7 linked regions of the Homo sapiens genome follow. The protein of the gene in region 3 purifies or fractionates together with the protein of the main gene of each other region. This does not show direct contact. Each region holds a gene or a part of one and is shown on either strand. Other genes may lie near its edges.

The links.
Region 1: the proteins of NT5E (region 3) and SAR1B purify together in Homo sapiens (affinity purification with mass spectrometry; 3 studies listed by BioGRID and IntAct, with this or other methods). This does not show direct contact.
Region 2: the proteins of NT5E (region 3) and SLC7A2 purify together in Homo sapiens (affinity purification with mass spectrometry; 3 studies listed by BioGRID and IntAct, with this or other methods). This does not show direct contact.
Region 4: the proteins of NT5E (region 3) and STEAP3 purify together in Homo sapiens (affinity purification with mass spectrometry; 3 studies listed by BioGRID and IntAct, with this or other methods). This does not show direct contact.
Region 5: the proteins of NT5E (region 3) and SLC44A1 purify together in Homo sapiens (affinity purification with mass spectrometry; 3 studies listed by BioGRID and IntAct, with this or other methods). This does not show direct contact.
Region 6: the proteins of NT5E (region 3) and PDS5A purify together in Homo sapiens (affinity purification with mass spectrometry; 3 studies listed by BioGRID and IntAct, with this or other methods). This does not show direct contact.
Region 7: the proteins of NT5E (region 3) and USP36 purify together in Homo sapiens (affinity purification with mass spectrometry; 3 studies listed by BioGRID and IntAct, with this or other methods). This does not show direct contact.

What each region holds. Positions count from the first base shown.
Region 1 is NC_000005.10:134,622,829-134,626,328, reverse strand, and holds part of SAR1B (small COPII coat GTPase SAR1B), read left to right. Parts: intron 1-2,291; 5' UTR 2,292-2,309; coding exon 2,310-2,367; intron 2,368-3,500. UniProt on the Homo sapiens protein: Small GTPase that cycles between an active GTP-bound and an inactive GDP-bound state and mainly functions in vesicle-mediated endoplasmic reticulum (ER) to Golgi transport.
Region 2 is NC_000008.11:17,563,088-17,566,587, forward strand, and holds part of SLC7A2 (cationic amino acid transporter 2), read left to right. Parts: intron 1-515; coding exon 516-624; intron 625-1,862; coding exon 1,863-2,059; 3' UTR 2,060-3,500. UniProt on the Homo sapiens protein: Functions as a permease involved in the transport of the cationic amino acids (L-arginine, L-lysine, L-ornithine and L-homoarginine); the affinity for its substrates differs between isoforms created by alternative splicing.
Region 3 is NC_000006.12:85,456,583-85,460,082, forward strand, and holds part of NT5E (5'-nucleotidase isoform 1 preproprotein), read left to right. Parts: intron 1-3,500. UniProt on the Homo sapiens protein: Catalyzes the hydrolysis of nucleotide monophosphates, releasing inorganic phosphate and the corresponding nucleoside, with AMP being the preferred substrate. Shows a preference for ribonucleotide monophosphates over their equivalent deoxyribose forms.
Region 4 is NC_000002.12:119,251,334-119,254,833, forward strand, and holds part of STEAP3 (metalloreductase STEAP3), read left to right. Parts: intron 1-3,350; coding exon 3,351-3,500.
Region 5 is NC_000009.12:105,380,651-105,384,150, forward strand, and holds part of SLC44A1 (choline transporter-like protein 1), read left to right. Parts: intron 1-2,472; coding exon 2,473-2,709; intron 2,710-3,500.
Region 6 is NC_000004.12:39,901,412-39,904,911, reverse strand, and holds part of PDS5A (sister chromatid cohesion protein PDS5 homolog A), read left to right. Parts: intron 1-720; coding exon 721-872; intron 873-2,451; coding exon 2,452-2,565; intron 2,566-3,500. UniProt on the Homo sapiens protein: Probable regulator of sister chromatid cohesion in mitosis which may stabilize cohesin complex association with chromatin. May couple sister chromatid cohesion during mitosis to DNA replication.
Region 7 is NC_000017.11:78,795,815-78,799,314, reverse strand, and holds part of USP36 (ubiquitin carboxyl-terminal hydrolase 36), read left to right. Parts: intron 1-291; coding exon 292-407; intron 408-763; coding exon 764-895; 3' UTR 896-915; intron 916-1,412; exon of another isoform or gene 1,413-1,435; 3' UTR 1,436-3,500. UniProt on the Homo sapiens protein: Deubiquitinase essential for the regulation of nucleolar structure and function. Required for cell and organism viability.

The sequences.
Region 1 (3,500 bases), on a different chromosome or scaffold from region 3:
TTTTTTTTTTTTTTTTTTTTTTTTTTTTTTGAGGCAGAGTCTTGCTCTGTGGCCCAGGCTGTGGTGCAGTGGCTCGATCTCGGCTCAGTGCAACCTCTGCCTCCTGGGTTCAAGTGATTCCCCTGCCTCAGCCTCCTGGGTAGCTGGGATTACAGGTGTGCACCACCACACCCAGCTAATTTTTGTATTTTTAGTAGAGATGGGGTTTTGCCACGTTGGCCAGGCTGATCTTGAACTCCTGACCTCAGGTGATCCACCCGCCTCAGCCTCCCAAAGTCCTGGGATTACAGGTGTGAGCCATTGTGCCTGGCTGAAACCACAATTTTAAAGAAATATATATATTATTATCTTCCAAAGCAGAGTTTGTGTCTTCTTAGATTATCTCTCTTGGGACAAATTTTACAACAGCAAATTGGTACCATCCTTATGCAAAAAATCCTTTTTCTGTCAAGGCTTTTCACCATTCTTTAGCTCTCACCTACCAACAATCATCTTCAGTGAGGACTTTGCCACTTGATTCACAGTCTGTATCAGTGCCCTCCAGTCTTCCAGGTGATTACACTGCCTGTCAATGTGGACAGTGTACCCTCTAGCCTGGCTTCCAGTATCTGTCACCTCCATTTTTCTTTATCGTCCATGCCAGAGCCAGGCCTTGGAGTTTGCCACCACCCAACCCTGAACTTCTCTTGAATTCTTGAACCCCCTATATTCTCTTCCACTTTGCTGGCACAATTCTGGCACTCCTTTCACCTCTCTCACCCTTTTCTGTTTTTGGCTTAGAGACTTTTTCTACCCTATTTTCCCAATTCTGTTCTGTTGAGAAGCCTGCCTTTGATCACCGCTCCATCTCTGTATACTACCTTTCTTTACCTTTGTCCACTCAACTTGAACTTCTGATCAGATCCCTACAGCCCTCTCACTAGTACTCTCAAAATCCTGTTCCCCTTGTCCTTTTTCATTTCTATTCTGGATGTTCCTAATCTCTAGTCACTCCATGTTGAGCACTGCTGGTGGAGGGTGGAAGGTTGGAAATCAGCACAGATTGGCACTGCTGTGAATGTTTGAGTTTCAATTCCAACTGAGTCCTTGGCTTTTTTTGGCAGTCTTTTAACTTGATTCATTCCCCATAGTAGCTATTGTAATGCTTGCTCTGCTCCTCAAAAATTCTCTATACCCTTTCACTTTTGGAGTCAGATTCCCACCACCTCCACAAATTTTCTGGCCATCTTTCCTCCTAATCTTAGACAAGAGACATAGGCTGTCAGTCCAAGCTCCTCTTGGGACTTTGTCCCTTTTGGTTAATTCCTTTCTTCCCTATTACTTCTTCCATCCCACTATCTCCTTCTCTTTAGTTTATCATCATACTCAAGCCTCACCCTTTTTGAGAAGGAAATTTCACTTCCAGGCCTGGGGTGGCTCACGCCTGTAATCCCAGCACTTTTGGAGGCTGAGGCAGGCGAATCACTTGAGGTCAGGAGTTGGAGACCAGCCTGGCCAATACGGTGAAGCCCAGTCTCTACTAAAAATATAAAAATTAGTCAGGCATGGCAGTGCCTGCCTGTAATCCCAGCTACTCGAGAGGCTGAGGCAGAAGGATCGCTTGAACCTGGGAGGAGAAGCTTTCAGTGAGCTGAGATCGAGCCATTGCACTCTAGCCTGGGCGACAGAGCAAGACTCTGTCTCAAAAAAAAAAAAAAAAAAAACTCACTTCCCTTATCCCATTTCCAACATTTTTTTAAACGATTTTAGTTTTTTACCATTTGAAATTTTTTGAAATAGGAATCTCTCCTCACTGCCTCACCTATTAACCTCTTATCCCATTTACTGTCACCCTGGCTGGAGTGCAGTGGTGCGATCTCGGTTCATTACAATCTCTACCTCCGAGGCTCAAGCAATCGTCCCACCTCAGCCTCCTGAGTAGCTGGTACTGCAGGTGTGCACCACCATGCAGGAGTACAGTGGCACAATCTCCACTCACTGCAACCTCCACTTCTTGGGTTCAAGTAATTCTCCTGCCTCAGCCTCCTGAGTAGCTGGGATTACAGGGGCCCATGACCACACCCGGTTAATTTCTGTATTTTTAGTAGAGTTGGGGTTTCACCATGTTGGCCAGGCTGGTCTCAAACTTCTGACCTCAGATGATCCACCCACCTCAGCTTCCCAAAGTGTGTAACTCTTTGTAGTAAAGTTGCTGTAGGATTATCTACTCAGAGTTGGTGTTTAACAGTATTGGAGTTTAATGTATATTGGTGTTTAATGTTGACTACTAAATTCAAACTCTTTTTTTTCAGACCCTATCAGATTTGGATATGTCCTTCATATTTGATTGGATTTACAGTGGTTTCAGCAGTGTGCTACAGTTTTTAGGTAATGTTGGTCCTTTGTTCTCTACAGTTATCCCCTTTGGTCTTATTTATTTAATAGTGCTTATCTGTGTCAAGTCTCTTTATAGATAAGCCAGTAGTAAAGAATAGTTAAGAATATGGGCTTTGAAATCATACATAGATGTTCAATTACTCATTGTATCCCTTTTAAATTAAGTAATCTTTGGCAAATTACTTTTTTCACCTTAGCCTGAGTTTTCTTATCTGTAAAATGGCAGTAATAATTCCTACCTCTTAAGGTGTTGGGAATATTACTAACAGAACTATCTACCATTTATTAGCTAGTTTACCTATATGCTTTAATGCTTTATGTCATTTAATCCTTACAGGATTATTATTAAAATGCATGTTCCATAAAGTAGCTTGTACACCATAAATAGCAGTTTTTAATAAGCCAAATGAGACTTCTTTACCCAGCAGTTCTTTTTTTTTTTTTTTTTAATTTTATAGAGACGGAGTCTTGCTATGTTGCCCAGGCTGGTGTTTTGTTTGTTTGTTTGTTTCTGAGATGGAGTCTCGCTCTGTCGCCCAGGCTGGAGTGCAGTGGCGTGATCTCAGCTCACTGCAAACTCCACCTCCCAGGTTCAAGCGATTCTCCTGCCTCAACCTCCCGAGTAGCTGGTACTACAGGTGTGTGCCACCACACCAGCTAATTTTTGTATTTTTTGTAAAGATGGGGCTTTGCCATGTTGGCCAGGCTGGTCTTAAACTCCTGAGCTCGAGTGATCTGCCCACCTCAGCCTCCCAAAGTGCTAGGATTACAGGCATGAACCACTGTGCCCAGCCTTGCTACAGTTTTTTCTTTTTCTTTTTTTTTTTTTTTGAGACAGAGTCTCACTCTGTTGCCCAGGTTGGAGCGCAGTGGTGCGATCTCAGCTCACTGCAACCTTCGCCTCCTGGTTCAAGCAATTCTCCTGCCTCAGCCTCCCGAGTATCTGGGATTACAGGCATATACTATCATGCCTGGCTAATTTTTTGTATTTTTAGTAGAGATGGGGTTTCACCGTGTTGGCCAATCTGGTCTCGAACTCCTGACCTCAAATGTTCCACCTGCCTTGGACTCCCAAAGTGCTAGGATTACAGGCGTGAGCCACTGTGCCCGGCCTCCTTGCTACA
Region 2 (3,500 bases), on a different chromosome or scaffold from region 3:
AGCTATCATAGTATCACTGCACTCTAGCTTGGGTGACAGAGTGAGACACTGTCTCTAAAAATAAAATAAAACTAAATTGAACATTAAAAAGATAAGCTCCTCCACTGCAAGTTAAACTATCCTGTCCCATTTGAGCTAACCGTATACTGGCTTGGGTTTGAAGAGGGCTTCCTGGGAGGATGTACCTGGGATAACCATATGTATCCCACATTTCAGAGGTCTCCCCTTTGTGTGTCTAAATGAAATCAGTAAACCCCAAAGAAAGCTAAATCCTAAAACCAATATTATTTTGATTGTGCAGGTGTTACTGAATCTGATAAATCCCCTGGTGCCTTGAGCTTTAGTAAATACTCTAAGATGTGATTCTCCTTTTATGGTCTCTAGAAGCGTGGTTTTAACTGTGATTGACGTGGTGTGAAAGTATATATGCCAAATTAATTGCCACCCTGTTGAAATAACTTGGGGAATATGCTTCAAAATATGAGTATGTTCAAAAGGATTGTTTTCCCCCTCAGGTTCCATTCTTACCATTTTTGCCAGCGTTCAGCATCTTGGTGAACATTTACTTGATGGTCCAGTTAAGTGCAGACACTTGGGTCAGATTCAGCATTTGGATGGCAATTGGTAGGTCTTTTAATGTCGGGTTCTCTTTCCTATTTCATGTGCTGTGATGAGAGAAACATGCCCTCTCCCCCATCCTGGGAATAAAGGCTTTTTTTTCCCGCTTCTTTCTTTCCTAATTCTTAGGGATGTCCGAGTGCTTTTCCAGATGTTTTCAGATGCCTTTTTAAGTCAGTATCTCCCACTAACCCTGTAGAACCATGTAGGCTCTATTTCCTTCTACTTATGGGTGAAAAAAATGAAACCCAGAAAAAGTCATTTTATATCAACCCAAAACTCACAACCAATTTTCTAAAATAGAACTAAAACAGCAAAATGCCTACATGTCTGCAGTGATCTTAGGAGGGTACTTAAAACGTTGCCTCCTGATCCCCACACAGTCAGTGTGGCTGTTAATAAACAGTTGCTTTGCATACAGTTCTTCGGACTCTCCTGGTGACAGTGACACGTGTAAAGCATGTCCGTGTCCTCTTTGTTAATACAGAGTGTACTTTGCAAAATATCTGATCTTGACTCTGATAACTCACCACTTGTATTTAGGGTATAATTTGAGACTTTATTCCACATATCATTTTGTTTAAAGTACAGTATTGACTTCTAAGAACATCAATTAAAATTTTTCCATATAAACATTGAAAAACTTGTTGAGAGCAAAATACAGTCTATAAAGTTTGGGTCTTCACAATAGAGAGGCACATTCTACCAGGAAAATATTGATCAAGGACACCTTCTGTGGGGTATCTTACATTTGCATTTCATTCTTCTAAAGCAGCGGTCCCCAACCTTTTTGGCACCAGGGACGGGTTTTGTGGAAGACAGTTTTTCCATGGACAGGGTGGGGGATGGTTTGGGGATGAAACTATTCCACCTCAGATCATCAGGCATTAGTTAGATTCTCATAAGGAGCATGGAACCTAGATCCCTCACGTGTGCAGTCCCTTCTGTGAGAATCTAATGCTGCCCTGCTCTGACAGGAGGCAGAGCTCAGGTGGTAATGTTCACAATGGGGAGTGGCTGTAAATACACTGTAAATACTAGAGACTGCTTGCTCACTTCCTGTTGTGTGGCCTGGTTCCTAACAATAGTGGTCTGTGGCCCAGGGGTTGGTGACCCCCGTTCTAAAGTACTACAGAAAGGAAAGAGACAAACTCTATTAAGTTCTACATTTTCCACCTCAATAACTTAAAAGTCATTTTCTGACATACCTGAAACATTGATTTTTTTTTTTCCTGCCCCAACAGGCTTCCTGATTTACTTTTCTTATGGCATTAGACACAGCCTGGAGGGTCATCTGAGAGATGAAAACAATGAAGAAGATGCTTATCCAGACAACGTTCATGCAGCAGCAGAAGAAAAATCTGCCATTCAAGCAAATGACCATCACCCAAGAAATCTCAGTTCACCTTTCATATTCCATGAAAAGACAAGTGAATTCTAACACTTGCAGGAGCAGAGCTGGTCATCGTCTTAGCATACATATCCTACACTGAGTAAACCGTAACGGGATGTCATCAGCATGCTGGGTTGTCATGGGTTTGCTGCATACATAGTTCACCCTAATTTATACTTACTCATCTGGACAGCATCTCCTCAGATGGTGAATTATGTGCACGGGGAAACCTCCTGAGTGGAAGTTTCATTCATCAGTGATGAATAGCCCCCAAACAGTGGGAGTGTGTATGTATGTGTGTATGTATGTATCTATGTATATGCTTGGGAACATGAGTGTTACAAGTTAGCTGGTGTTTTACTATTATTGTGTTACATTTTTCCAGTGTCGTCATTAATCGGTGGCATATACTGCACATACTGAAATAGAGGGAAATCACTGAATGTAAAGAGGTTTCATCTATGCCCCCTGCAGTTGGGGAAATACTAGTAGCTTTACCTTGTTTGACTTCATTAATGTCAGTTTAGGGGATGCCAAAAATGCAGTTACTCATCATGGTGTCTGTCACTGGTTAGGGGTAAGATGAGGGGATAAGGAAAGAGACTTTTCAATAAGTTGTGAATGCCAACAGTGGGTTTAATGCAAATTTTTTTTCCTGTGAGGTATGACAGTTTGCTCAAACTTCAGCCAACAGGGGTGTCTGCTTCTGCTGCACTACACAGGCCAGGAGTGGCATTCCATGCCACTAGTTGGCATCCTTTTGAACTTTTGTCTCCTTTGCAAACAGTGGTCCTAAAATACGAGGTCTTCACTTGCTGTGAATGACGTATCCCCAGTCAGGGACTTAAGAGAGGCACTGTGATATACTTGGGACCCTTTAAATTAAAAAGTGAAGATAGTCACCAGGGCCAGAAAGCTCATGGAGTGGCCGTAATGAGAATATGTTTGAAGATCAAAGAGTTAGACCAATGCTTGAATAAGTAGACCCCAAGCATCCTTTTCTAAAAAGTGACTTAAAATAAGCCAACAGACTCTCCCAGACCACACAACTAGTGGAATGATTCCTCCTTTTTCCATTACTTACTTAATCACAGTTTAGTTTTTTTCTTAACCTCGTCAGGCCCAGAGTTCACTTCTTTGTTTCTCTGTTTCTTTTGTCTTGTCTTAGAGATGAGGGGGCTACAGCAGCATCATGCAAAGAGGGAAAGATGAAGGGATAGAAGAAGAGAAAATCCCCCTGTTCTGATAGGAACGGCCTGTTCCATTGTTAAATGGCAAATGGCCCAATTTAAGGGCTTTGGATCTAATTTGCCTCTGATGTTTCCTTTGGAAACATTTAGGAATATTTTTCTCCCCCTACCCCATAAATTGTGTAGCACTTTTTATTCCATTTGCTTTCAAATGACTACACTAAGCCTAATAATACAAGCTCCAGTGTTATACAATAACCCATCAGTGATTGGGGAATCAAACATTTTGGTTTAAAAAA
Region 3 (3,500 bases):
GGAAAAACCCTCCCAGCTACATAGGGAAATCACGGTTTTGGAAGATGAGCAGAAAAGGGTGGGAGGGAGAAGACAAGAGAGAAGAGGGTGAGGAAAGAGGCCAGGCAGCAGTCCAAGTGTGAGATGATAACACCTGAACTCTGGTAATTGAGGAGACCAAATCCACGGGAACCAGCTGCAAAAGGCATTCTGTCTGGTAGGTATAGGGCTAAGGGAGTAAACGTGGGGGTGAGACTGGGATCAAGTCCCCTTCCTACCACTTAGAATCTGTGGACTGGGAGCAGGTTATTTAATCTCATGAAACCTCCATTTCCACATGTGTGAGGTATGTGATTGTTGTCTCCACCCCTAGGGTGCTGTGGGGTTTACAAGAGATAGTAGTGCACATAATGTGCTTAGCACAGGGCCAGCCCCTAGTAAGTGCCGGCTGTACTTGCCTTCTCTTTGCAGGGGTGGCTCAGGAGAGGGTGTAATCAAAAGATGATTATGAGGGTTCAAGCACCAGGCAATGGGAGAGTCAGCAGGTTTTAATGCTTCCACACAGAGGCTGGATTCTTCTACTTCCGCTTACCGCTGACAGCTGAGGCCTGCTACCTCAAGCCCTGAAATGCAGTCTGAAGACTTTTCCTGGACTTACTGGGCACCATTGGACTGTACAGGGCTGTGGCAGACAGGAGCAGTGGAAAGAGATTTGGATGGGACGTCAGAACACCCAGATTTTACTTCTTGGCTCTTCCACTTACTAGCTGTGTGAATTTGGCAGTGGTTTCCTTATCTATAAAATGGGGGAATTGGAGAGGGTGGTCTACTGCATGTTACTTCTCAGCACCTCAGCTCCTCCCCACCCCTCTCTCTTGCTTCTAATCTGCCTACATCACTTGGTTTGTCTCTGGACAAGTCTAAGTTTGCATGACAACTCTCTAATTTCTCCTTCACAGTTATTTATTTATTTTTTGGCAGCTATTTCCTTGTGGAGAGATAGCGTAGGTCTTTCAGGTGCTTCCATTTGGCCACTGTTTGCAGGTGAAGAGGTTTCCAGGATGCTCGCGGGATGTTACTCTGGTAGTAACAGAAATGATGGCCTGGGGAATGGGAAGAGTATGAGCCCAGTTTTGAGCCTGAGTCTTTGGGGCTCATTTATTCATTCAATCTGCAAATCTTCATTCAGCATTACTACATGCCAGGCTCTCTGCTAAGTGCTGAGGATAGCGATCAGGACCTGCTAGGGTGAAAATTACTCTTCAGAAGATAGCAGAGTGGATAATGGCCATTCGAGTTCCTCTTAACTACACAGAGGGACTGGGTAAGATCTATAAAGGAGAGAGGTTAAACAGCAAAGCAAAAGTGACTGAAATTCTAACACCCATGCATGGGGATTCTTGAGCTAAAGATCTGGTCTGTAGAAGAAGACACATCAGACCCTCATATTTAGCATCTAAGCCGAAATCAGCAGTAAGCATGTTTCTTCTCCCATAAAAACTTGTCCCTAAGAAGAGAGACAAGTGCTTACAAGGACTCTTATGTTAAAGGAAACTGTCACAATTACTTTATCTTCAGTCATGAAGCCTTTCTTGAGGAAAGAAAAATTAGCAATACTAGTTTGGGAAGCTTGAAAGAGAGATTCTGTTTGCAATGACACTTTTAAAAAGGCAACAACAACCAAAAAAGTAATTATTCCTAAAGCTCAGGTGTCAGAAGTTGTGAATGTCTAGGGGGTTGTGGATCCCCAACCTCAGAGACAGGAACAGCACCACTCCCATCCTGGGGCTGTGGCCTCAGGCCTCTGCTTCCTCTTTTTCAGTCTAAATTCCAGAGCAGAGAGGTGCTGGATGACCAGCTTCAGGCAGGGGAGGGAGGAAGTAAAGGTAGTTTCTCAGCTCATCTTGTCCTCGTACTATTAATAGCATCTGTTGTTTTCTTAACTGAAAATTGGAGAGAACCAAACAAATCAACATCATATTGGCGGCTTTCTGCACATCACTCACAAATACATCTGAATGCTCTGTACTCTCCAGTGTTTATTTTCCTCAGCCACATAATCGGAATTTGAACATTCTTTTGACACTTCTTTTCCCTCACTTGAATAATTAGTTCTATATATAATCCAAATATTAGCTGGAGCCCTCTAGCCCCTCAGAGATATAGTTGAACCTTCCTGGACCTCAATTAGTTGGGCAGTTAATTCTGAATGTTGATGTGCCTATTTTGCACGTATGGAGAGTTTGTACGTCCCCCCTCCCCAAACAAGTAGAATGCTGTCTATTTGGTACTTGCTCATTCATACATTCTTTCAACAACCAAACCCAGTTGCAGCTGGGTTGAACCCCAGGGTGTTTCCTGCTATTCAGTGTGATGCCACATTCACCTGCTGTGGCCAACATTCCTTGGCCCAGGACTGCAGGGATGGAAGCCAACCCAACATCAGAAGTGGGCAACAATGCCAGAAACCTATCAACCAAAACAAATGTAATTTGTAATCCTCCCTGGATGATGTTGAGTGATTGGCAACTGAGCCCCGTCATATAGTAAATCAGGCTGTCTCTCTTTAAAAAAGAGAGACAGAGAGAGAGAGAGTCTCCCAATGTTGCCTAGGCTGGTCTCAAACTCCTGGGCTCAAGCAATCATCCCTTCTTGCCTCCCAAAATGCTGGGATTACAGGCATGAGCCACCATGCCCAGCCTAGGCTGTCTCTTTAGCTCTTCAATTATAGGGCTTCCTGCAACCTCAGCCCTTAACGAATGAGCTAGCGTGTAAGTGACTAGCTAAATAAATGTGCTGCAAACCTCTGACAAATGGCTTTTTGACATTATTAAAATTTATTTATGTGGAACAAAAAAATTCTTTTCTTCTGCATCATGCATCCTACACTGCTTTTAAAGAAACTCTGCTATCCTTTGTTTTACCGTCTAACATTTCTTTGTTTCCCTTCTGACATGTTTCAGCCTCTTGTCATCACTTGGAACATTTTTACTGCCTCATCCCTCTAGTTTCCATTTCCTAGCCTAGCCCAGCCCAGTATTTTTGAAACCCAAATACCTGGAATTTTGCCTGATGTTTAAAGCCAAAACCAAATGAAAATGTGAAGAACCAAAGGAGATTTTATTCTTCTGTGACTCAAAATCCTGTTGTTATTGTTAAATGAACCCTGTGGGATACAGTCTGGTATTTTTAACACCTTCTGGGGGTATTTGTCAATATTTACATTTGATGTGGATAGCTTATAAAAGTCCAGTGGCTTTGGGTAAACCCTGTTCACTAAGAATAAGACCCAGAAGGTCATATGAATCAACGATCAAAGAATGAAGATATTCTGAATCCAAGTTTCTTGTTTTGATTATTAAAAATACCTTGCAATTAGTTAGGCATGAGAGAAAGCTTGTGTATAAAGTTTGGCTTGTAATTCACATGAATTCTCTATACAGGCCAAAAACTACCTTCCCTTTGGGAATATACAATGACCTTATTTGGAAATTACTTCAGGTAATTATGAAGTAATAATA
Region 4 (3,500 bases), on a different chromosome or scaffold from region 3:
CTGCAGATTAGGAGGCAAAGGTGTATGCCAGCTGTAGAGAAAACCTTTGAGACCATGTTTACAGACAGTATTATTACCAACAATAACCGATATTTGTACAGGGCATTTGGATTTGCTTGTGTATTTCCCTGGAAATACACATTTCAACATCAAACTCAAAGATCAAGATCAAAGAAATGTTTAACCTGCACACTGTTCTCCTGTTACCTTCACCCCGTTCTCCTATTACCTTCACCCCAAGCTACATCTGCACATGGCTGGCACAGGATGGTCTGAAACTCTCATCTGACCATGTCACTGCTGAAAAGATCCAGTGACCCCAGTGTCCTTGGGATAATGGTAGAACCCTCACTATGCAGCTAGACTCCCTCCGCAGCCTCATCTCCCCTTCTCCTGTGACGTGTCAACACTTGGGTCCCATACTGTCCTCTAAATGGGCAGAGCTCATTCCTCTCGGCTTGGAACGCCCACCCCAGGACACCTTGACAGCTTGCAAACTCCTATTCCTCCTTCAAAACCCTACCTCTGTTAAGCTCCCCCAGACTATCCCCTTACTTCCCCATACCTGCCTCTGTAATCTGTTGCATTTTGTAAATACTTTTTTATTATTTTTCTTACACACTACTTCATACCCGACTCAGAGGTCCATGACTGGGTCTTCTACACCTTGGGGTCCATGGTTCCTAACACAGGTTCACAGTGCATGCTCACTGAGTGACTGATTTTTAAATTGGCCACCACAGAGCCAATATCAGGCATCTTAAGAGGAGTGCACGTAGAGCTTGGAGCAAGAACTAGTCTAACTGCCTTGCTGCCACTAAGAACAACAGCCATTTATTACATTAAGTGCCCACTGTGTGCCTGTTCCATGCTACTCATTCCACAAACGTAATGCTTTTAGTCCTGCAGTAACACAGCAAGATACAATGATGCTATGAGCCAGGAAAGGGACTGCCCAGGGTCTCATGACTGCCCACCAGTGGCAGAGTCAGCGTCAGAATCCAGGCCTATGGTCTCTATGCCCCAAGGTTGCCCTTCCACACCCTGCCACCCCCTCCTCCTCTGAGTCTGGCAGGCAGTGAGTTGGTACCACTCTCTTCCCATCCATCACCCACTATGAAGACATGGAGAGGGGCTAATGCTGCAGCCTCACTGGTCCTTCAGCGTCTGACCTGCAACCTAGAGGGAAATCCCACACCTGAATGCTGTCTTTCCATCTCTTGTTGATGAACACTCTCCTTGGCCTTCTCAAGGAGAAGGTGGTGAACTTGATCATCTCTAAACATAGAGACTTACTTACTAGGGGAGCTGTTACATCTGCGTTCCAGTTAGCCATGTGTGCCACTGGTCACCAGGGAGCTCTGAGCACAACACTGTGGTTTAATAGGCTGGCTGAGAATCTCATGGACTCCTAAGGCTGGCTTAGGTTCTGTCCTCATGCGGGTCTTTGCCATCCACTGCTCCCTAGCCCACCTCATCCCTCCCTTCCCAGCGTCACTGCAGACTGGAAATGTTAGAGGAAAAAAACAAGGCATTTTACAAGCCAATGTGGTATACGTGTGTGTAATCATCCAAACTCTGACTTGTGACATTAACTGCCTGATCTTCCCGAGGCGCAGAGAGGAATGACTAATGAAGCAGAGTTAAAGAACAAACAACTTCCAGCGAGGAGATGACTTACTCAATTCATGCTGTGAGGTGTGAGTAAGACTTCTCTGGGCAGAGGTACGGAGGAGACCTCTCTGCCCTCTGCACGCCTTTCCAGCTAATGGTGACTTCAACCACAGCAGGCACATAAGCAAAATCAAGAGAATTTCAGACATGACCTCATCCAAACCTCCTAGGTAGAGAAACTGAGGCCCAGAGACAGTCTTGCCAGAGTCACATGCCACTGGTGGTCAGGACAAGAGGCTGGGTCCCTAGACTCCTGGTCCCTTAGTGGCTTAAAGTCACCAAAGTGAGCCAGGCCTGCCCTAAAATAGAACAGAGCCAATCATTTTTCACAGATTGCAGGAAAAGCACTCAATGGATGGCATTTTCTCTGTTTCTTTAAACTTTCTCTTATAAGCTGTACAACCATTTTGCTCAGCCCAGTGGATTCACTTTTAATATTTTATGTGGTAACTGAGCTCGTGTTTTTTTTTTTCTGCTGAAATTGTTTCTCAAAAAACCTGTATGAGTCATTCTGTTTTGAGAGGCTGCCTATTAAAGTGTAGTCACATCTTCTAATGGAAATACTGTTCCTTGTTCTGCTGACATTATAGAATAAAAGTACCAGCATTTCACAGTGTTTCACAGAGAACACCTTGACTTCCAGGAACTCTGCTACCCGGTCTAGTTGCACCTTGATAAAAGTTCTTCCTCATGAGGGCACTATGCGAGTGAGTGTTGGCTGGGCTAGGAGGGGGCTCAGTGGCAAGGTGGGGAGAGAAGGGTCAGAAATCTCCAGGTTCATAGGGGCTCCCCAATTTATATGTCCTGGAACTTGGTGGGGGGGCCCAGATCTCTGTGAGGGCAGGGTAAGGGCAGGTATCTTTATTTTCTGTAGCCCAGGGCCTGGCACACAGTAGGTGCTTCGTAAGTGGTCACTGAACTGCTTGGTGAATGGCCGTCAGTCTCTCTTGCCTGGCAAAGTTGAGCCAAGGCTGTGTGCCTCAGGCAGAAGTAGAGAACTGGGTAGGAAGAGGGGAGGCTGAGAGCTTTGGGTCGGGGAGTGTTGGGGGCTCAGTGTCTGTATGTGTCTTTGTATGTCCTGAGTGTGAGCCAGTGATGGGGGCAGTGTGGGGCTCCAGGAAGACAGAGGGCTCAGGGTGAGACAGGCTGGGAAGGGAAGCAGCCAGTAAGGTGTGAGCTCATTGGCTGAGGGGATTCAGAGCTAGGAGAGCTCCTCTCTCCTGTCCTGGGATTCTGGGGCCGGAAAACCGTGAGACGGAGCCATGCTTAAGGGCTGTATTTCTGGTTGACTCCTTACTCTGCTGATGTGACTGTTCTGATTGGCTGCCCCGGGGCAGATATGTGAAAGCCCCAGGAGCCCCGGTCATTGGCACCAGGCTGAGTGGGTCCTGATCCCAGCTCTGCATCTGTTAGCTACATGTGACCTTGGGAAAGTGATTTGATCTTTGTGCCTCATTTCCTCCATCTCTAAAATGGGCTAATAGTGATCTCTACTTTGTGGGGTGGTTTTGAGGATTCGATGAGTTAATGCCTGAGAAACGCTTATCACAGAGCCAGGTAGCGTCAGGTGCAGTGTGAGCGCCCGCCGTCTTGTCTTTCTTGTGTCCTTCATCATTGCCCTCCCGGGGCACCAGCCTTTGCCACAGTGTTCATGGTTTTCCTTCCATCCATGTCAGGTCTTGGCCAACAAGAGCCACCTCTGGGTGGAGGAGGAGGTCTGGCGGATGGAGATCTACCTCTCCCTGGGAGTGCTGGCCCTCGGCACGTTGTCCCTGCTGGCCGTGACCTCACTGCCGTCCATTGCAAACTCGCTCAACTGGAGGGAG
Region 5 (3,500 bases), on a different chromosome or scaffold from region 3:
TTTAAATGTATGAGAAATATAATAGAAGTCCCAGGTGATCCTGTTAAATACTCCCTAGGACGTGGGTATCTCCATCCATGTGGATCTCCATCCACCATGGAGATCACTGATATAGACCAGTACTTCTTGAGACATAGTCTTTATCAGCACCTGGGATACTTTTTAAATGCAAACTACTGGGCTTTATCATGGATCCAACCAACCAGACTCTGGGATTAGGGCCCAGGAATCTGCATTCTTAGCCTTTCTACAGTTTGAGAACCATTAATGTATCTGTTTGAATAAGTGCATAACACTCTTTCATTATATTTGGGAATAACTACTACATTTTTTTGGCTAAACATCACTAATTGTTGAAGTTACCTCCTGCATGAGAATATCTAAACTTCCATCTCACCAGCTTTTTGTCTCAGCGTCTAGTTTGTTTGAGCCATACCTTTTTTCTATAACTAACTTTACCATTTCAAAGGGGTTTAACTTTTAATGGCATGGTGAGAGCATGAAGAACCTCAGCCCTCCAAGAGGGTGAATGTGCAAGATTTGGAGAGTATAGGAAATAACTCACTCTAAAATTGAAACCAGGAGAGTGGAAGAAAATTGAAGTAATGACCAGGCGCGGTGGCTCACACCTGTAATCCCAGCACTTTGGGAGGCCCTGGCGGGCGGATCACCTGAGGTCAGGAGATCGAGACCAGCCTGGCCAACATGGTGAAACCCTGTCTCTACTAAAAAATACAAAAAAAAAAAAATTAGCCAGGTGTGGTGACGAGCACCTGTAGTCCCAGCTACTTGGGAGGCTGAGGCGAAGAATTGCTTGAACCCAGGAGGTGGAGGTTGCAGTGAGCCAAGATCATGCCACTGCACTCCAGCCTGGGCAACAGAGCAAGACTCTGTCTCGAAAAAAAAAAAGAAGAAAAAGAAAAGAAAATAGAAGTAATTAACCATCTATGGAAATAACCCCAGAAAATGAGAAAGAAAAAAAATGGAAGTAATTAACCATCTATGGAAATAACCCCAGAAAATAAGTCACTATAAGAGAAGATTCATAAGTGTGTTGCTACAAAAATGGTGGGGAGTCTTCCAAAGCTTGGGCAGACCCAGATTTGCTCCCTAGAAGCATCTGAGAGAGGGATCAATTTATAGCTTAACCAATGTATCATCTAATGCATTTTAACTCCGAGTTAAGATAATGGTGAATGAGAAATGCCTTGATGTTGATAAATATTGGAGAAAATGCCAAAGAAGAATTCATGGTCTGCCTATTATTCTTAATGCTAGACAAGAAGAGGCTGCCATGATTCTAGGGGTCTCTTTTTTCCCTTTACTTAAAGCCTTATACAAGACAAAATAAAGAGCTGGGAAAGAGTGTGTCTAGAATTCAGTAGAATCCATTACTGCTGTGGATCAATATCCAAATATTTCTGAGTTTTTATCTGAAAAGAGCACTGGAGTTGACATCATAAGACCATTATTTGAGTAGGATCTGTTCTTTTTTCCTACTTTTATGACCTTGACCTTGGATCTACTCTTTTTTTTCTACTCAGGTCGGGTGGCATCTGTAAGTGTGTTTCCAAGGCTATAAAATGGGATGATAATATTTGCCATAAACCATTCATAGGGTTATTGAAAAGCTGGAATAAAATGTATTTTAAAAACCACAAAAAATTTAAAATGCTGCATGTGAAATAAGCATCAGAGTGGGTGGTTCTTGACAATAACTAAATTGGCTATTTCTTTTATTCTTTTAGCATGGATGTTTTTGGCAACCTCTTTCTTCACAGAGAGTCCAAATATACACTTCATGGCAAATTATATTTACCACATATTCTATGTGAAATAAAATACGAAACACAGAAAAAGTTCTAAGACTATACATGTTTGTTGCAGCATTATTTATATCTGAAAACAATATAAATCTCTAACAGTAAGAGAATGGTTACATGTATTTTAAATCACTCATAAAATGAAATTATGTAGCTGAGTAAATATGAAGCATTTATAATGATACTTCTATGTATATTAATGAAAAGCTTATAGTGATTTGTTTATATAATACTATTTCATATATGTGAAAATGCTTAGAAAAAATACATACCATTACACTGAAATATCACTTTTTTTCTGAGTGCTAAGAGTTTGTAAATTTTTTCTAAAATATGCATACATTTATCTTAAAAATTGCCACAGATTCTAAATAGATTAAGTTTTAGGGTGCAGCATAGCATTTGGAAAACTTAATTATGTTTAAACCAGAATCATTTAAAGTATGATTTTAAAATTTATATTATATGATAAGCATGTATAACTCTGGGTGTATATGAGAATATGTGGATTATATTTCCTCATTTGAGATGGAATGGCCTCATGCAACCATCATTTATAAATAGTAGAATTTTAAGTCTGCAAATGGTGAAAAAAGAGTGGCTTTCTTCAGTAGGATATTAAATATGATCTTTGTTCTCTCTGCTTCAGGTGCTGATAGTCTGCAGCACAGGTTTAGCTGGGATTATGCTGCTCAACTACCAGCAGGACTACACAGTATGGGTGCTGCCTCTGATCATCGTCTGCCTCTTTGCTTTCCTAGTCGCTCATTGCTTCCTGTCTATTTATGAAATGGTAGTGGATGTATTATTCTTGTGTTTTGCCATTGATACAAAATACAATGATGGGAGCCCTGGCAGAGAATTCTATATGGATAAAGTGCTGATGGTAAGTACTTCAAATGCCGTTTCCTATTTTAGGGATAAAAATACCAATAAAAATATTTTGTAAAACATTCTCTATATTTAATTCACACTATATGCAACTGAGTAATTTAGAATTAACCCCATAGCACTGACTCATAAATGAGGTTAATCTAGGGTAAGTCAGGGAGGACGGCTTCTTGGCATGGACAAGATCATTTCAGATCCACCTAGCTAGAGCAGTACTGGTTAATAGTCCTAAGTTCACCCTATTCTTGCTGCCCCTCTCTCTGTAGTTAGATAGATTTGAATTGACTTTTTAAACTAGCTTCTAGCCTTTTCCTGAAATGGGGCTCAAAGACAAAATATCCTGTTTCCCAGGTCCTAGTGCCTACCTGTCTTTCTCTATCCACCACTGCCCCAAACATTACTGCTGTCAACCCTGGTTAAAACTCATTATCTTAAATATGGTAGGCCAAATTGAAAGCATTTTGTGATGAATACCGATAACAGACCCATGACTGGTAGAGTGTATAGTTATTTATTAGTCAAGATCTGAACCTTTACACAGATATATGCAGATTTTTCATATTAGAACCTCAATTAAATTTCTTTAAAATTTTGAAAACCTTATTAAATGGTTTAAGTACTGTTATAATCAGTGTTAAATGTTACCAAAGTAAAGATGCTTTCTAAATAATAGTAGTTTGCTATTAAGCTGTGAAATATTTCTATCTCAAAATGGGTAATATTGAATACTAAGCATTATACATTGAAATAACAAGTCATTTTCCAGGAGCATATTTTATCCAGTTA
Region 6 (3,500 bases), on a different chromosome or scaffold from region 3:
AATTATAATCACTTCTAAAACTTGGTGAATTTTCTTTCAATAGAATCAAATGAACTCTCCCATAAGGTTATTAATAGTTTTCAAGGGAAATAAAAAATCAGTAACCTGTAGTTCTAGGTACTCAGGATGCTAAGGCAGGAGGATCACTTTAGCCCAGAAATTTGAGACCAGCCTAGGCAACGTAACGAAACCCCATTTCTTTAAAAAGAAAAAAGTAGATCATTTAGCAATATTTGCATTGGAAAATTTCTAAATAGGAACAGATTCAAAATTGTTTGTAGGCTGGGCGCGGTGGCTCACGCCTGTAATCCCAGCACTTTGGGGGGCCGAGGCGGGCGGATCATGAGGTCAGGAGATCGAGACCATCCTGGCTAACAGGGTGAAACCCCGTCTCTACTAAAAATAAAAAATTAGCCGGGCGTGCGGGCGCCTGTAGTCCCAGCTACTTGGGAGGCTGAGGCAGGAGAATGGTGTGAACCTGGGAGGCGGAGCTTGCAGTGAGCCAAGATCCTGCCACTGCACTCCAGCCTAGGCGACAGAGTGAGACTCCGTCTCAAAAAAAAAATAAAATTGTTTGTAAAGCCTCTTTTGAAGAGAAATAGTGTGCCAGTTTATAAAGGCACACATAAGACTGTACAACCTAATGAAGCCAAGGCAGTCTTTGGAGATTAGTACAGAGTTTTGTTATCTTGCTCATCTAATAAATTTTATGCTTTTTAGTGGCGAGTAAGAAAAGAAGCTATGATGGGTCTGGCTCAGCTTTATAAGAAATACTGTCTTCATGGTGAAGCAGGAAAGGAAGCTGCAGAGAAAGTCAGCTGGATAAAGGACAAACTTCTGCATATTTATTATCAGAACAGCATTGACGACAAGTGAGTTTAATATGTTGGTAGAATGGTTGAGTGTAAAACTACTTTTTACTTAAAAAATGTCTATTTAATATTTTAGTAATTTCTTATTTTTATGTATTTACTTCATAAATAAAATTAAGTTTATTCAACTTGATTAATCATTTATTTCTAAGTTTAGAGATAGCTTTTTACATATTTTTATGTACTGTGTTTAAACAAGACTGTCCACGATTATAAGGTAGCCTTATAATATGAAATAGGCATGAACTTTGGAGTTAGAGACCAAATGTTCACTCTGCCCTTTATTAGATGTGTATTCTTACATAGGTTCATTAAGGTCTTGTGCGCTTCAGTTTTATATAAAAAGGAAAAATAATAGTGCCTTTCCCACAGGATTATCATGTAGATTAAATAAAATAATGAATATAAAGCATCCTAGCCCAATGTGTGGCAAGAGAGCACTATTGAGTTAACTGCTAGTTACTTTCCTTTTTACACCACTACCAATAGAGGAATTACTAAGTTGTTTTCATTTTCTGAATATTACTTATAATTCTATATTGGATCGTACAAATGATACTTGGTGTGTGCAGAATAGTTTCCATTGTTTTGTTTAATTAAACTAACTTCTCTGGCATCACTGGATATGTATTTCATTTGTTAATTAAGAGATCTTGTATATTCTTAATCCAGTGATATTAAATAATAGAAGCAAGAAGATACAAGCAATAGGTACTAGCAAGAAGGATATTCCAATATTGGTAAGGAATTTAGATCATGGAGAGAACAATAATCAGATGTACACAGGAAAAACTACATTTTCTGGAAGTAATATGAAGGGGGGTCCCCCTGTTTTTAACTATGTGACAACATGGAAAATGGGCTGAACTGTAATCAGAGGAAATTAATGAGTTTCTTGAGAATTAGCTCTACCGCGGATCATAGCTTTATATGTTGCGTTAATGAATTTGCTTTTGTTCTAGACTGCTGAAGAAGAATAGGCGGAACAGCCTAGCACCCTGTGTTTAGGAATAACATTTAAACCTTCTAGAACAAATGTTTCATACTGACAAATTATAAAGCCACAGACAGTAACCGTGTCTCTAAAGTTAAACTGTACTGAAAGCTTTCCAAGAAGGAAGTCATTATAAACTGATATCTTCCATTGTATGTGCACACATAGCTATTATCTTGATATGGTATCCTGGCATAAGATGGTTAAAACTTAAAATGTTGGCTGGGTGTGGTGCCTCATGCCCGTCGTAATCCCAGCACTTCAGGACGCTAAGGCAGGCGGATTGCCTGAGCTCAGGAGTTCCAGATCAGCCTTGGCAACATAGGGACACCTTGTCTCTACAAAAAATATAAAAATTAGCTGGGCATGGTGGCACGCGCCTGTAGTCCTAGCTACTGGAGAGGCTGAGGTGGGAGAATCGCTTGAACCTGCGAGACAGAGGTTGCATTGAGCCGAGTTTGCACCACTGTACTCCAGCCTGGGTGACAGAGCAAGACCCTGTCTCCAAAAAAAAAAAAAAAAATTGCTTCTTAAAAATGGAATAATTGTGTCACTTAGGTTTTTTTTGTTGTTGTTATTTCCTAGACTGTTGGTAGAGAAAATCTTTGCTCAGTATCTTGTCCCCCACAACCTGGAAACAGAAGAGAGAATGAAATGCTTATATTACTTATATGCTAGTTTGGATCCAAATGCTGTAAAGTAAGTTACTTTTCAAATAACTGCTGTATTTTCTAAGGATTTCGTAAAATTACTTCATCTTATCTAATTAGTTGTTATTGATTGGATTGTTGCTGCTTCTATAGTTGAATCAAGAACCTCAGGTAAATATTTATAGACAAAATGTTACGATTTATGTTCAGGTTATTCTTATATGTGTAGGCTTGTTTGGCAGCCAGGTCAGTAGTAGGATGGTTTCAGGTGTTCAAATAAATGACCACGTCAAAATACCTGTGGCTAGTGTCTAAAACTACTGGTGCTTTATCCTTCCAGACTAAATATTAAGCCTAATAACTGAATACTGATTCTTTGTTGGGTGAACATATTCAGATCTTCTCTGTGTAAGATGGCCATATGATTAATGGTCCAACTGGATTATTTTCAGACTGAAAGGGATCACTATTGATATTTTTACTTAAATAGCATAATCAAACTGTCCCAGGCCAACCAGGATGTGTGGTCATTTCACTTTAATAGATTTTTTTTTTAAAGTAAATGTTACAATATATACATATATTATGTTGTACACCATCGTATATGTAATTTTTGTCAAAAATACACAAAGTAAATGAGTGATGTCATTAAGAATTCTGATCTGAAGATGGAAGGATCTTTTCAGCCTAGAAGCTTGACCATCCTGGGCAATGTAGTGAGATTCTGTCTTAAAAAAGAGAGAGAATTTTGAGTTAGGAATTTGACTGTTTGCCATTGTGGCTTCTTCAAGTGTTCCTGCATTATTAGATTAAGACTGCATTTTTAGGCCGGACGTGGAGGCTAACCCCTGTAATCCCAGCATTTTGGGAGGCCAGGGCAGGCAGATAATTTGAGGTTAGGAGTTCGAGACCAGCCTGGCCAACATGGTGAAACCCCATCTCTACTAAAAATACAAAAATATTAGTTGGGCATGGTGGTGCACG
Region 7 (3,500 bases), on a different chromosome or scaffold from region 3:
AGACCAAACATGACATCTTTGTTCCTCAGACGAGGGCATGGGTTTAGAAAGAACTGAACTCTTTGGCTGTGGTTTAGGGTTTAGCTAAGAGGGCATCGCTGGGGGTTCCATGCTGACCGACCACACATGGGCGTCGAGCCGTCCTCCTCTTGTCCTTCTCTTCACCACAAGGTGGCACTCAAAATTGTTGACTAATTATGAGTAGACTAGTTGGTAAATGACACTCTTGAAGTGAAGCCACAGGGGACCTGGGAACCTGCACTCGTGCTGACCCCCGTGTCTGCCTGGTAGTTCTGACCTGGGATGGCAAGATGTCGGCGGTCAGTCAGGATGCTATTGAAGACAGCAGACAGGCCCGGACTGAGACCGTGGTTGATGACTGGGACGAAGAGTTTGACCGAGGGAAGGTATGATGTGTGATGCTGACCACAGGCTTGAGGGAGCAGGGCGGCGTGGCTCAGCTCAGAGCCGGGGCAGTTGGAGGTGGCGGCAGTGGCATGAAGCGGCCGAGCATGAGAAGAGCCAGGCTGCCCAGGCCTGTCCGGGCGTGTGGCCATGGACAGGGCATGCATCCTCGCAGCTTCCGCCCCTTTGTCAATAGGGGGACTGCAGGTCGCCGTGCACAGGGGTCATTGTGAAGAGTGGGTCTCCAGAGAGCTCATGAGAGCCCGGCCTGTGTGCAGGACCTGCATGCAGCATGGAGCCCCGTGGGCCAGGAAAGAGCCGTTTTTGGGAACTGTGATGCCTGTGATTCTTGGTCTAGGAAAAGAAAATTAAAAAATTTAAGAGAGAGAAGAGGAGAAACTTCAACGCCTTCCAGAAACTTCAGACTCGACGGAACTTCTGGTCTGTGACTCACCCAGCAAAGGCTGCCAGCCTCAGCTATCGCCGCTGACTGTGCCCCTGTGGAAGGAGGTCGGTTCCGAGGGGGTGGGTGTAAGGGTGAGGTGGGGGTGTGTGTGCCGTGTATGTGTGTAGGGGTGTGGTGGGGTGTGGCGTGTGTGTATGATGTATGTGGGCTGTGTATCTGGCACATGTGTGTTGGGTGGTGTGTGTGGTGTGGGCGCGTCTGTGGTGTGTGTCCTAGTCACTTGGAGAAGGGTGTGTGTGGGATGCGTGTGTATAAGGGGGTGTGTGTGGGATGCGTGTGTATAAGGGGGTGTGTGTAGTGTGTGTTGGGTGTGGGGTGTGTACACCTGGCATCTGTGGCATGTGTTCTGGTCACTTGGAGAAGGGCATGTGTGGGGTGTGTGTGGGATGTGGGTTGTGTGTATATCTGGCATGTGTCCCAGTCACTTGCAGAAGGGTGACTTCTTGCCAGCCGCATCGAGATGCCATGCATTGGGTTCCTAGGTTGGACTCATACCCGAGGGTGGCAGTGGGAAGATTCGGGTCTCGTTTCTCTCTGTCAGGACTACCGTGGTTTGTTCTGCAGCCTCCTGGAGACAAGGCGTCCCTTCCCGGGAGCTGTCGGTCTGGATCTGAGGGAGCTCTCTGTGTGGGCTCTGCTGCGCTGGGAGCCTGTCACGGTAGGAGCTCTCCCGGTACCAGTGTCCACAGACCGCCCAACACAGAGGCTTTGAGGCTTCTCTAGATCGGAACCTCTTTGGTGACATTCCCGACCAGCCCTGCAAGAGAAACGACAGTGTGTGTGTGAGCAGAGGTGGCCGCACACCTGCTGGACATCTTTGCCAGGCTGTGCCTTCTCATGTTTCATAGACAGTGGTCTGTGCTGGCAGAGGCTGCTGCCCCTGGTTGGGGCTATCAGGAGAGTGGGGGATGGTGGCCACATGTCCCCCAGGTGGTCTCCCGGTGCATAGCTGGTGGCTCTGGGCAAGCCATCCCTTGCTTCTCGGGGCTGACGCCACCGTTGTGTCCGAGCCCGCCCTCCCCTGCTTCCTCAGCGGGACCCCTTCATCTGTTGGCCTTACCTGTCCTCAGAAAGGAAGAGGTGACCCCACCCAGCCACCTCTCCCTTTTATGGAACTCGAGAGGGTGGCCCTACTGTGCACCCCTTCCTTGTGAGTAGCTCTCAACTGTCCTGGAGAGCAGAGGCTATTTGGGGTCGGAGGAGCCCTCGATACCTGCGAATACATCTGCTTTCCAGGCTGCTGTTTATTCTGAGACGACTGTGCTGTAGCTTCCCTTGCAGCTGCAATAACCCGCAGGTCTTCACTGAGGTGGAGGCTTTGGGGTAGAATTCTCCATTTATTTTACTACTTAATACAAAACATTTATTTTTGACCAGTCCTGTGGCTTCCATTAGCAATATGTTTCCTTTCCCAAATATGCAAATAGTGGCTTTGTTTGCTCAATTTTGTGAGTGCTTTGGAATTTAAATGATTGTATAACTCAAGAAGATTACTTTTCTATGTTGCTCAAGCTGTGCCTGCCAACTTGTAACTTAATAAATACAGGAAATCCTCAGAGAAGGTGATATTTTCAGGAAAAAGACAAATGCCCTCATAGTAGTGGGAAGTGTGAAGGTGACCGTGAACATCCTTCCTCATCGGGTCTGTCCCCGTCATTTCCTCCCGGAGTCGTCGCAGGTGGAGATGGACAACGTGGTGTTGGACTTAGACCTCCTTCAGTGTGGCTCTGCTGGGCCAGAGGCATCCTGCTGTCCCGGGTGGCTGCCTCGCTGTCTGCACCCCCTCTCCCTGGGGCAGCTTTGCTTCCTGCCCCTGTGCTCGGGGCCTGGGTGGTTACTGGCGTGTAGATGGAATTGCTTTTTTAATATGGGAAGATACATTTATTTTTTTCCATGTGGGTGGGTGTCTCTTTTTGGATTTTCTTCTGTTTTTACGTTTCTCTTCTTAGAAGGGTGGGAGAGAATCAAGCTCCTGTGGCCACCTGTGTCCCAGCAGCAGTGAGTGGAGCTGCTCAGGGTGCCCTCTCCTGCGGACCAGTCTCTGAATGTTCAAAGATGAGGGCCTGGCTTCCGTGCTCTGGCTTTGTAACTTATCTGGAAGGGAAAGCACATGCCTTCACGGGCAGGGTATGTTCCTTTTCTTCTCGGGGTGTTGACTTGCATTCCTGTGTGAACTGTTCCCTCTGCCATGTTTACCGTGTGATGTTCTGTAGTTGAAAATGTTAGTTGTCTGCTGGCACAGAATTTATCTCGTTCCTTTCTCTCCCTTCTCTCCTCCAAATCAGTCTCTTCCCTTCTCCACTAGATAACTGTAAAACCTTTTCCTGGGGTACATACATTCGTTAACTCTTGGGCAGTGGTGAGCACGAGATGACTTTCTGCAGCGTTTATCACTGTTGGGTGGAGTCACGTCCCTTCCCTCCACCGAAGTCATCAACCAGATAGGGAAGGGAAAGATGAGGCCCAGAAAACGAGTTCAAACTCTAGGTCTTGTACACGTATGTAAGTAAATGTCAATAACCCAAGCCTTTGTCATAGCAGTCACTTGGTTGACTTAGGATCTGGGTCTGTTGAATTTTGTGCTTGGGAATGGAGCTGGAGGGAGTGGGGCCTGTGTACAGCAGCTACC